3 linked regions of the Homo sapiens genome follow. The protein of the gene in region 1 interacts with the protein of each later gene in a pairwise test. Each region holds a gene or a part of one and is shown on either strand. Other genes may lie near its edges.

Region 1 (3,755 bases):
TACATAGGATTAAAGAACCCCTCTCTCAGCTCTTTCCTCTCCAGTGTTCCTTCCACATTGTTTTGCAAACAGACCCCATTTTCCTGGTCCTCTGTCAAGAAAGACAAGGTTTCTCTATAGAGCTGTGGCTGCATGCAACACTACATGTGTTGCCACCACATAGTTCCATGTGACTTGGGCTTCTATCAAAAGAAAGTAACAGCAGAAAAGGCAGAACAGCATAACCAGGTTTCCCCCATACACTTCAGACCACTGGGATCCCTTGCTAGCTCCGCCTCCCGGGTTCATGCCATTCTCCTGCCTCAGCCTCCCGAGTAGCTGGGACTACAGGTGCCTGCCACCACACCCGGCTAATTTTTTGTATTTTTAGTAGAGACGGGGTTTCACCATGTTAGCCAGGATGGTCTTGATCTTCTGACCTCATGATCCACCTGCCTCGGCCTCCCAAAGTGCTGGGATTACAAGCGTGAGCCACCGCGCCCGGCCTGGGATCCCTTTTTCTATTTGCTCTGGCCAGAAAGATGGGGTTTTAACTGCCTTTGTTGCCACCATGCAGTTCTGCAACTGGGGCTGCCTTAAAGGCAGGACCAGGAAAGAAAAAAGAGGAGGTAGAGAAAAAAAGGGGAGACTTTCCTGTACTTCACTACCTCTTAGCAACCTCTTTTCCTGGTCCTTTGGCCGGAAAGACAGGGTTTTTCTAGAAGTTTTTGCTGCCTTGCCTTCACTTGCTGTTGTTTACTTTTTGTAGTCCTGAAGTAGTTGTTTTTTGGTGTGTTTTGTCCAGTTTTTGTTGTAATCAGTGGGTGATTGACGTCAAAATGCTCTTACTGTAACATGGCCAGCATCAGATGTCTCCAACATTCCTTTTAAAATGTAAAATGTTAATACCTCTGTTAAAGAAGTTTTTTTGTTTGTTTTTTTTTTTTTGAGACGGAGTCTCACTCTGTCGCCCAGGCTGGAGTGCAGTGGCACCATCTCAGCTCATTGCACCCTCCACCTCCCGGGTTCAAGCAGTTCTCTGCCTCAGCCTCCCAAGTAACTGGGATTATAGGTGCCTGCCATCATGCCCAGCTAATTTTTGTATTTTTAATAGAGATGGGTTTCACCATCTTGGCCAGGCTGGTCTTGAACTCCTGACCTCGTGATCCACCTGCCTCAACCTCCCAAAGTGCTGGGAAGAGTAACTCAAAAAAATCTGTGAAGTAACTTAACCATGATATTACCTTTCAGCTAAGCTGTCTCCAGATTTTTTACATCTTTCTTCATACTGATGAGTTTAGACATATCATTGTAATTTTGTTTTTGCTGCTTTACTCTCTCTTTTCTTACCCTCTTCCCTTACCCTTTTTTTTTTTTTTGAGACAGAGTTTTGCTCTTGTCACCCAGGCTGGAGTGCAGTGACACCATCTCGGCTCACTGCAACCACCGCCTCCTGGGTTGAAGTGATTCTCCTGCCTCAGCCTCCCTAGTAGTTGGGATTACAGGCACCTGCCACTAGGCATAGCTAATTTTTGTATTTTAGCAGAGACGGGGTTTCACCATGTTGGCCAGGCTGGTCTTGAACAACTGACCTTAGGTGATCCACCTGCCTTGGCCGCCCAAAGTGCTGGGATTACAGGCATGAGCCACCGCGCCTGACCCCCCTCTTTCTTTATTGTAGACCAAAACAACTTTTCTTCGTACTTCAAGAAAGACGTTTGTATACATGTTACTACAGCCTATGGTTTCGTTCTTCTGTGGACCTTATAATTATAATACATTGTTTTCAGAACTCAGTATATCATGTTAACTAAGTGCTCTGATGCTTTAATAAGCATTATTAAATACTAATTAATGTAAAAAGGAACCTCTTACTCTTCTGTAATTATAGCTCTAAAATCACTGGAATTAGATGATTATCAGCTTTCACGTAAAAAAAAACTGTCTATAGAAACAAGTTTTAAGAACTTCAAAGATTGTTGGGTAATGCAGCACTTTACTGTGCAGCCAAAATTTGAAAACATCTCAAAATTCTTTGGACTGTTAGAATTGGTATGTTTAGGAAGGTAGACTATTGGGTCAAAGATGAAAATATAAATGTGATGTATTGTCAAAACTGCTATTGTCAGCCATGGCTCAATGTAGATTATCCCACTCATTTTTATCAGTTCTGTAAGAATGCCATGTATCAGATTCTTTATAGAGGTATGATTAACTGTGGCTTTTTCTGTCACTTTACTCTACATTAAATAAAATATAGGGGGCCCTAGCCAGAACAGTCAGGCAGACAAAAAAGATAGAAGGCATTCACATTGGAAAGGAAGAAGTAAAGTTGTCTCTGTTTTCAGGTGAGATGATCTTATGCATAGAAATACCTAAGGATTCCACACACAAAAAAATTAGAACTAATAAACAAATGCAGTTAAGTTGCAGGATACAAAATCAGCATACAAATATCAGTTGCATTTTTATACACTAACAATGAACTATTTGAAAAAGAAACTATGAAAACAATTTCATTCATAATAGCATCAGAGGGGGAGGGAAAGCATTAGGAGATATACCTAATGTAAATGAGGAGTTAATGGGTGCAGCACACCAACATGGCACATGTATACATATGTAACAAACCTACACGTTGCGCACATGTACCCTAGAACTTAAAGTATAATTTTTAAAAAAATAATAATAGCATCAGAAAATAAAATAAAATAAAATACTTGGGCATAAATTTAACCAAGGAGGTAAAAGATCTATATGCTGAAAACTATAAAACATTGATTTAAAAAATTGGAGAAAATATAAGTAAGGTATTCTGTGTTCATGAATTGGAAGAATTAATATTGTTAAAATATCCGTAGTACCCAAAGTGATCTACAGATTTAATGCAACCCCTATCATAATTCCAGTGGCATTTGCTATGGTTTGGATATTTGTCCCCTCCACATCTAGTGTTGAAACTTGATCCCAGTGTTGGAGGCGGGGCCTGGTGGGAGGTGTTTGGGTCATGAGGGTGGATCCGTCATGCACATATTGGTGCTATCCCCTTGCTGATGAGTGAGTTCTCCCTCTATAATTTAACAAGAGAACTGGTTGTTTAAAAGAGCATGGCACCCCTCCCCTCTCTCGTCTTGTGAAATACTGACTCCTCTTCCCCTTCTGCAATGATTGGAAGCTTCCTGAGATCCTCAGATTCGTGCTTCTTGGACAGCCTGCAGAACTGTAAGCCAAATAAACCTTAATAGAACGATCCTAAAATTCATATGTAACCACAAAAGGCCCTGAAGCCGGGGTAATTTATAAAGGTCAATTAAAGAGGTTTAGTTGACTCACAGTTCAGCATGGCTGGGGAGGCCTCAGGAAACTTACAATCGTGGCGGAAAGCAAAGGGGAAGCAAGGCACCTTCTTCACAAGGCCGCGGGAAGGAGAAGTGCTAAATGAAGAGGGGAAGGGCCCCTTAAAAACCATCAGATCTTGCAAGAACTCACCATGTAGTACACCTGTAAACCCAGCTACTCGGGAGGCTGAAGCATGAGAACCACTTGAACCCTGGAGGCACAGGGTTGCAGTGAGCCGATATCATGCCACTGCACTCCAACCTGGGTACAGAGTGAGACTCTGTCTCAAAAACATAAGAATAGTGTCAGGCACGGTGGCTCAAGCCTGTAACCCCAGCACTTTGGGAGGTCAAGGTGGGCGGATCACTTGAGCTCAGGAGTTTGAGACCAGCCTGGGCAACATGGCAAAACTACATCTCCACAAAAACAATATAAAA
Region 2 (3,755 bases), on another chromosome or scaffold:
CTGGGTATTACAGTTCACCAGCTTAATTCAGGGATTTAAAAATAGTGAATCAGGTTAGGCACAGTGGCTTACACCTATAATCCTGGGAGGATCACCTGAGGCCAGGAGTTTGAGGCCAGCCTGCACAACAAAGTAAGAGCCTCATCTTTACAATAAATAAATAAGCCAGCCAGCGAGCATAGTAGCATGTGCCTGTAGTCCTAGCTACTCGAGAGGCTGAGGCAGGAGGATTGCTTGAGGTCAGGAGTTCAAGACCAGCCTGCGCAACACAGCAATACCCTGTCCGTAAAAACAACAATACTTCCAAAAACCAGTGAATCAAAAGCTTTATAGCATTTGATTATATTATGCTTTATAGTAGGAGCCCATAAAAAAAAACTATTCTTTTTGCACCAAGCTATAAGTACCCTGAAGTTAAGAACAAGGTCATAATAACCTGTGTTTCCCGCAGTGACCAGGAAAAAGCAGTGCATGGGTTAACACATTCCGTACCTACTATAATATGCATCATCCAAGGCACTTTACATTTATTTAATTCCACAATAAGCTTATAAATTAGGAATTATGATCTCCATTTTTCAAGAGAGGAAAGGTGACTTACTCAAAGAAATTTTTATTCAGATGGACTCACTCCTTTCAATACACTTTGTTTAGTTAACTTAAAAATTTTTTGTATTTTAAATTTTTGTGGGTACATAGTAGGTGTATATATTTAAAGGGTAATGAGATGTTTTGATACAGTCACGCAACGTGAAATAATCACATCATGGAGAATGGGGTATCCATCCCTTCAAGCACTTATCCTTTGTGTTACAAAGGATCCAATTACACTTTTAGTTATTTTAAAATGTATAATTATGGTATTAATGACAGTCACTCTGTTGTGCTATCAAATAGGTCTTATTCATTCTTTCTATTGTTTTTTGTACCTATTAACTGGTAACACCATCTCCCCAACCCCTCATTACCCTTTAGTAACAAGTTAACTTTAGTTAACTTCTTATTTAAAAAATGATCCCCAATTTATTTTATTTTCCACTGAGAAGTAACTACTTTGTGGGTAATCAAATAAATAGTTGAGAACTTGAACTCAAAAGTCACTAGTAAAATATTTGGTCAAAATAATTTAATTACAAATATACAAATGGCAAACAGGCATACGAAAGGGTACTCAGCACCACTGATGAGAGAAATGCAAATCAAAACTACAATGATACCTCATCTCACCCCAGTTAAAATGGCTTATACTCAAAAGACAGGCAATAACAAGTGCTGGGAAGGGTGTGGAGAAAATGGAACTCTCGTACGCTGTTAGTGGGAATGTAAATCAGTAAAACCACTATGGAGAACAGTTTGGTGGTTCCTCAAAAAACTAAAAATAGAGCTATCATATGATCCAGCAATCCCACTGCTAGGTATATACCCAACAGAAAGGAAAACTGTACAAAGAGACATCTGCACTCCCACTTTTGTTGTAACACTATTCACAACAGCCAAGATTTGGAAGCAACCTAAGTGTCTATAAACAGATGAATGGATAAAGAAAATATGGTACATATACACAATGGAGTATTATTCAGCCATAAAAAAGAATGAGATCCTGTCATTTGCAAAATAATGTAATTATACTTTTACCCTGGACTTTTTATATTATGAGGAAATAACATTACATTTATTGGTTACCTGCAGTTGGTGAGGCATTTATACATGTTATATTATGCTATCTTATTTAATCCTCACAATAACCCAATAAAATATTCCTTTAGAGGAGGAAACGGTGACTCAGAAGTGCAGAGTCTTGCCTAAGGTCATACAAGTAAACAGAACACATCACTCACTTCTTATGAGAAGAAATCTCACTGTAAGTGATAACCCAACTGGCAGCTTTTCTTCTTAGAACATGTAATTTTCTCTTCGGGACTCCATCCTAAATATTTAATTTACATAATCATATTACTAGAGTATCTCAAATATTTATTTACATAATTAAAAGCACTCAAATCATAGGGCTCCAAAATGTATTTCAAAATAAGTTCTGTTAAAGTAATATATTTCTTAGTCACTTTGTGGTTTATTGCACTTCCGGAACCAGCTATTGATAAACTTCCTCTTTTTCTACAGAAACTATTTCAGTTTGCTAGAGGAACATTTTAAATCTGAATTGAACCACCCATTTTCCTTTCTTAGCCAAATCACCAAAATGTCCAGTTAGAACAAGAATTTAGCATTCTGCAAAAGAAGTTAACAGCTGAGGTAAGAAAATTTTCACACAATTTGGTTTGATCTTGCTTTATATAAAATTTATTTTAAAAACTGTCATTAGTGTTTTAAACTTAAACTCTGATAGTCTAAAGATGTCTATAACAGGTTTTTGTGGTTTTGTTGCATAGAATTAAAAAATACTCAGTTCAGCTTGCCTTAGAAAAATATTTTCACCTAGGTTTGTATAAGACCTTTTAAGTTTATTTAATCTCACACACACACACACACACACACACACACACACACATATTTTTTTTTTTTTTTGAGATAGAGTCTTGCTCTGTCTCCCAGGCTGGAGTGCAGTGGCACGATCTCAGCTCACTGCAACCTCCACCTCCTGGGTTCAAGCAATTCTCCTGCTTCAGCCTCTCAAGTAGCTCGGATTACAGGCGCCCACCACCACGCCTGGCTAATTTTTTTGTATTTTTAGTAGAGATGGGGTTTCACTATGTTGCCCAGGCTGGTCTCCTACTCCTGACCTTGGGTGATCCGCTTACCTCCGCCTCCCAAAGTGCTGGGATTACAGGAGTGAGCCACCGCTCCCAGCCACAATCATATTTGTTAACCTTAGTTTTAGAATTAAAAAGAAACTATAGCCATGGCAGATAAAGCTAAGGGTTAGAAATAGAACTAGATTCCACAGGCTATGACTGAATTTATAACCTCCAAAATATTAATTGTTAAAAGTTCTAATGTACTTTTTATAGAATTTTCCTGTACATAATATAATGCATAAATTAAAATTTTTGTATCCCCTTTAGTTTGCATAGTAAGAATGGTCACTTTCACTTAATTTAGAAAGAAAAAGAAATCAGATGTGGTATTTGACTATTATTATTATACATGCTTTATTTTTTACATATAGATTTTATATTTAATAATGATGACATGAAAACATTATGGCTCATTTTAAAAGCTTACTAAGCCAAAAATGTTAGTCAATAATCAAACATGCATGCGTATATTAATATCATCTACGTGTTTATGTCACATTATCTGAGACTTTAGAACATAGTATAAGATAGAAGAAACCTATAGAATAAACAATAGAAAATTGTTAATATGCATAAAAGATGCTTGCTGTGGGTAAAATGGGCAAATAAAAACTGCAAAGAGTATTTTACATAGACTTGTAATTTCAGGGAATAATATGTTCATAGTGGGTGATATCCCATTTCAACACTTAATAAATATTCATGACTTTCTCTTAGAAGGATTTCTTCTAAGTAATTACTGTGGAAGTCAGAAAATAAAGATATTTATCTCTTTTTCAGATTAGGCTTGTCTATATATTTTTCTACTTCTAATATTTAGTTTATTTCATTATGCATAAAGTCATAAAATTATATTAAATTTTTTTCACTGTCATATTTCATAAAATTAAAAAATTTCCCATCGATCCTTATGGTGTGTTTTTGTCATAGAATCCCATACTTTTTTTTTTTTTTTTTGAGATGGAGTCTCCCTCTGTCACCCAGGCTGGTGTGCAGCGG
Region 3 (3,755 bases), on another chromosome or scaffold:
AATAACATTTAGTATTTCACAATTTCTGTGAGGCAGGCATTCAAGTGGCATTGCAAGGTATTTCTGGCTCAAGGTTGCTCTTGAGTTTACACTGAAGATTTTGGCCAGGCCACAGTCATTTGAAAGCTTGACTAGGACTGCTGGAGCCACTTGGCTCATACACATGGCTGGCAAGTTGGAGCTGGTTGTTGGCAGGCAGCTCAGTTACTCCCCATGCGAGCCTCTCCATAGGACTGCTTGAGTGTCTTCACAACATGGATTCCCCATGAGCAATCAAGACAGAGGAAAGAGGAAGTTGCAATGTCTTTTATGACTTTATCTTGGAACTCGTGCTCCAAGATTTCCGCAATATCCTATGGGTTATACAGGTCAGTCTTATTCTTGGTGGGAGGTGACTACAGAGGGGTATGGATATCAGGAGCCAAGAATCGTCAGGGTTTATGGTGGAGGCTGGTTATCACACTCTCATCTAGGTTTCTTTTTCTCCTACTACTTGCCCCCCACCCCTTCTTAATCATGGAACACTGTTCTTTGCCTTCAAAAAACTTATCCTGTTATATGATTACACATTCATTTAATTAGTCTGTCTCCCTCCAACGGACTGTAAGCACCACAAGGGCAGAGACTGTATGTGTCTGCTTTAGCACTGTGTCCTCAGTTACAAGGACAAAGCATAGAGTACGCGCTCAGTGAATGCTTTTTGAATGAATTATAATGATTTGCTTCTGTCTGAATTACAAGAGGTGTTTCTGTTTGTCTCCTCTCTGCATTGTAGGCTCCTAGCTCAGGACCTGGCATAAAATTAAGGAAATGAACGTGAGAAACACTTTTGAAATAGTGACAACACATCCAGATGAACATTTTGCAGGACAGCTACACACCCGTTTTAGCTCACCAGCTACCAGTTGTGACTGTGCTCTGCTCTGGGAGATGGCTTAGCTTTGCATAGGACAAAATTCTAATCTAGTTTCGCGCAGTTCTTACGAATTTGTTACAATGAGACGGGCCAAGCTATACAGCCCATTGCGATGAATAAGTAACTTTTTTTTTTTTTTTTTTTTTTTTTTGAGGAAGAGTCTCATTCTGTCGCCCAGGCTGGAGTGCAGTGGCGCGATCTCGGCTCACTGCAACTTCTGCCTCCCGGGATTCAAGAGATTCTCTTGCCTCAGCCTCCCAAGCAGCTGGGATTACAGGCGCCCGCCACCACGCCCGGCTAATTTTTGTATTTTTGGTAGAGACGGGGTTTCACCATGTTGACCAGGCTGGTCTCGAACTCCTGACCTCAAGTGATCCGTCCGCCTCGGCCTCCCAAAGTGCTGGGATTACAGGCGTGAGCCACCGTGCCCAGCCCCGAGAAGTAATTTCTTTTGTTTTCTTTTTAATTAAACAAAAATGTTGCTGAAACGAGCTGAGTGATATAGGAGCTTAAAGAATTGACAAGCTCTAGATTTCATTTCCCCAAACCTCTTTGTCCAGCTCGAACCCACAGAACAGGGACAAAAGTCGACAAAACCCAGCGGTGCCTCACCCAGAAACCTGGCAACGCGGGCGGAACAGAGCCGGTTGGTTGCTCAGTGCGCGTCACTTCCGGGACTCAGGGTCGCAGGGAACTACTTCCGGGGGAGCGGCGCGGCGGCGCGGGAGGTGAGTGCCGCAGCTTTGCGGTGGGGTGGGAACCGAGAGAGAGCCGTCCTCGGTGCGGTGGCCTGGCTTTCCCGGCCGGCCTGTCTCCAGCGGCGCCGCTTGGTGGGCCCGGCTGTCGCTCCGCTCAGGGCCTGAATACGTTCCCTCGGCGGTTGTTCGAAAGTTACTTCCGGAGGGGAATTTGAGCCCCCCGGGAGGCGGAGGGCCTCGCCTGGGGCAGCCCTGCGCTTTCGTGCGGAGGCTGGGCCAGAACCCAGGGCTCCTCATGGCCTGGTCCGGGCCTTTCCTCCCACGGGTGGAGCAGTAGGAGAACCCTGAGCTCCAGAGTGAATCTGGCCAGGGTTCGAATCCGTATGGCTCTCTTACCGTGGGCAAGTCACGGTTCCTCTCTGGCCCTCAGTTTCGTCTTCTAAAATGGACATACACGCTTGTACTGCGGGGTAAACCGAGGTGGTGAATGTAAAGCCCTTAGTAGGTGCACAGTCCATGTTTGTTGTACGAATTCTAAGAGAAGCGAGAAATGAATATGAGAAACATTTTTAAAATGGTGACAACACATTTAGATTAATAATTATATTTTGCAGGGCATCTGCACACCAGTTTCAGCCCACCGGCTACCAGTGTGACTTTGCCCAGAGAGGTGGCTTAGCTTTGCATTCTAATCTAGTTTTGCGTGGTTCTTAGGAATTTGTTTTAATGGGACGGGCCAGGCTGTACAACCCATTGCCATAAAGCGGTAACTTCTTTTTCTTTCCTTTTTTTTTTTTTAAAGCCATTCTATTTATTTATTTAGAGACGGAGTCTCTCTCTCGTCCACGCTGAAGGGCAGTGGCGGGATCTTGGCTCACTGCAACCTCCGCTTCTTGGGTTCAAGCGATTCTCCTGCCTCAGCTTTCCGAATAGCTGGGATTACAGACGTGTGCCACCACGCCCGGCTAATTTTTGTATCTTTAGTAAAGACAGGGTTTCACCATGTTGGCCAGGCTGGTCTCAAACTCCCGACCTCAGGTGATCCACCCGCCTCGGCCTCCCAGAGTGTTGGGATTATAGGCGGGAGCCACCACACCCGGCTTTTTTTTCTTTTTAATTAAAAAAAAGTTGAAATAGAGATGGAGTCTCACTATGTTTTCCTGCCTGGTCTTGAACTCCTGGAGGCAAGATATCCTTCCTCCTGGACCTCCCAAAGTGTTTGGGATTACTGGCAAGAGCCACTGTGCCTGGCCTAAAACAGTAACTTCTGACACTGGTTTCTATTCCCCAGTCTGTTTTCAGCTGAATTTTCACAATAGAATTTAAAGTTACTTCATTAGAAGCCAAGAATGGCCTACCAGCACAGTACACAACATTGGGAGATGAAGGCCTGTGGCAGTCGTGAAATCTGAGTTTTTCAGTCTTAAGAGAAGATTTAGTATTTGCTAAGTCTTGAGAGCTATACTTGTCTCAGTGGTTTTTTATTTATTTGTTTTGAAATGTTGACCCATTCTTTTTTTCCCCAATAACCTTTTTGTTTTAGAATAATTTTAGATTTACAAAGTTATCGCAAAGATACTTCAGTGAGTGCCCATATAGCCCACGTTTCCCCTATTACTAATATCTGAAATGTCACAATTACTGAACCAATATTGATACATTATTATTAACTCTAATCTGTACTTTATTCACATTTCCTTAGTTTTTCCCTAATGTCCTTTTTCTGTCCTGGTATTATCCAGGGCACCCTATTACATTTAGTCATCATATCTCTTTAGGCTCATCATCTCTGTGATCGTTTCTCAGACTTCCCTTGTTTTAGATGAACTTGAGGGTTTTGAAGATAGTACTGACTGGTCAGATATTTTGCAGAAGGACCTTTAATTAGGATTTGCCTGTTTTTGACATGAGTAAGATCAGGGTAATGGGTTTTTGGGGAGGAGGACCACTGATAGGGTTCGGCTGTGTCCCCACCCAAATCTCATCTTGAATTGTAGCTCCCATAATCCCCCCATGTTGTGGGAGGGTCCTGGTGGGAGACAATTGAATCATGGGGGTGGGTCTTTCCCATGCTATTCTCCTGATAGTGAATAAGTCTCAGGAGATCTGATGGTTTTATAAAGGGCAGTTCCCCTGCACAC

Evidence for each region.
Region 2: the proteins of SLC39A9 (region 1) and EVI2B interact in binary tests that used the Homo sapiens proteins (3 or more experiments, as listed by UniProt).
Region 3: the proteins of SLC39A9 (region 1) and MANBAL interact in binary tests that used the Homo sapiens proteins (3 or more experiments, as listed by UniProt).

Annotation. Positions count from the first base shown.
Region 1 is NC_000014.9:69,436,681-69,440,435, forward strand, and holds part of SLC39A9 (zinc transporter ZIP9), read left to right. Parts: intron 1-3,755. UniProt on the Homo sapiens protein: Transports zinc ions across cell and organelle membranes into the cytoplasm and regulates intracellular zinc homeostasis. Participates in the zinc ions efflux out of the secretory compartments.
Region 2 is NC_000017.11:31,312,477-31,316,231, reverse strand, and holds the start of EVI2B (protein EVI2B precursor), read left to right. Parts: upstream 1-2,177; 5' UTR 2,178-2,253; intron 2,254-3,755. UniProt on the Homo sapiens protein: Required for granulocyte differentiation and functionality of hematopoietic progenitor cells through the control of cell cycle progression and survival of hematopoietic progenitor cells.
Region 3 is NC_000020.11:37,288,043-37,291,797, forward strand, and holds the start of MANBAL (protein MANBAL), read left to right. Parts: upstream 1-1,612; 5' UTR 1,613-1,644; intron 1,645-2,226; exon of another isoform or gene 2,227-2,284; intron 2,285-3,755.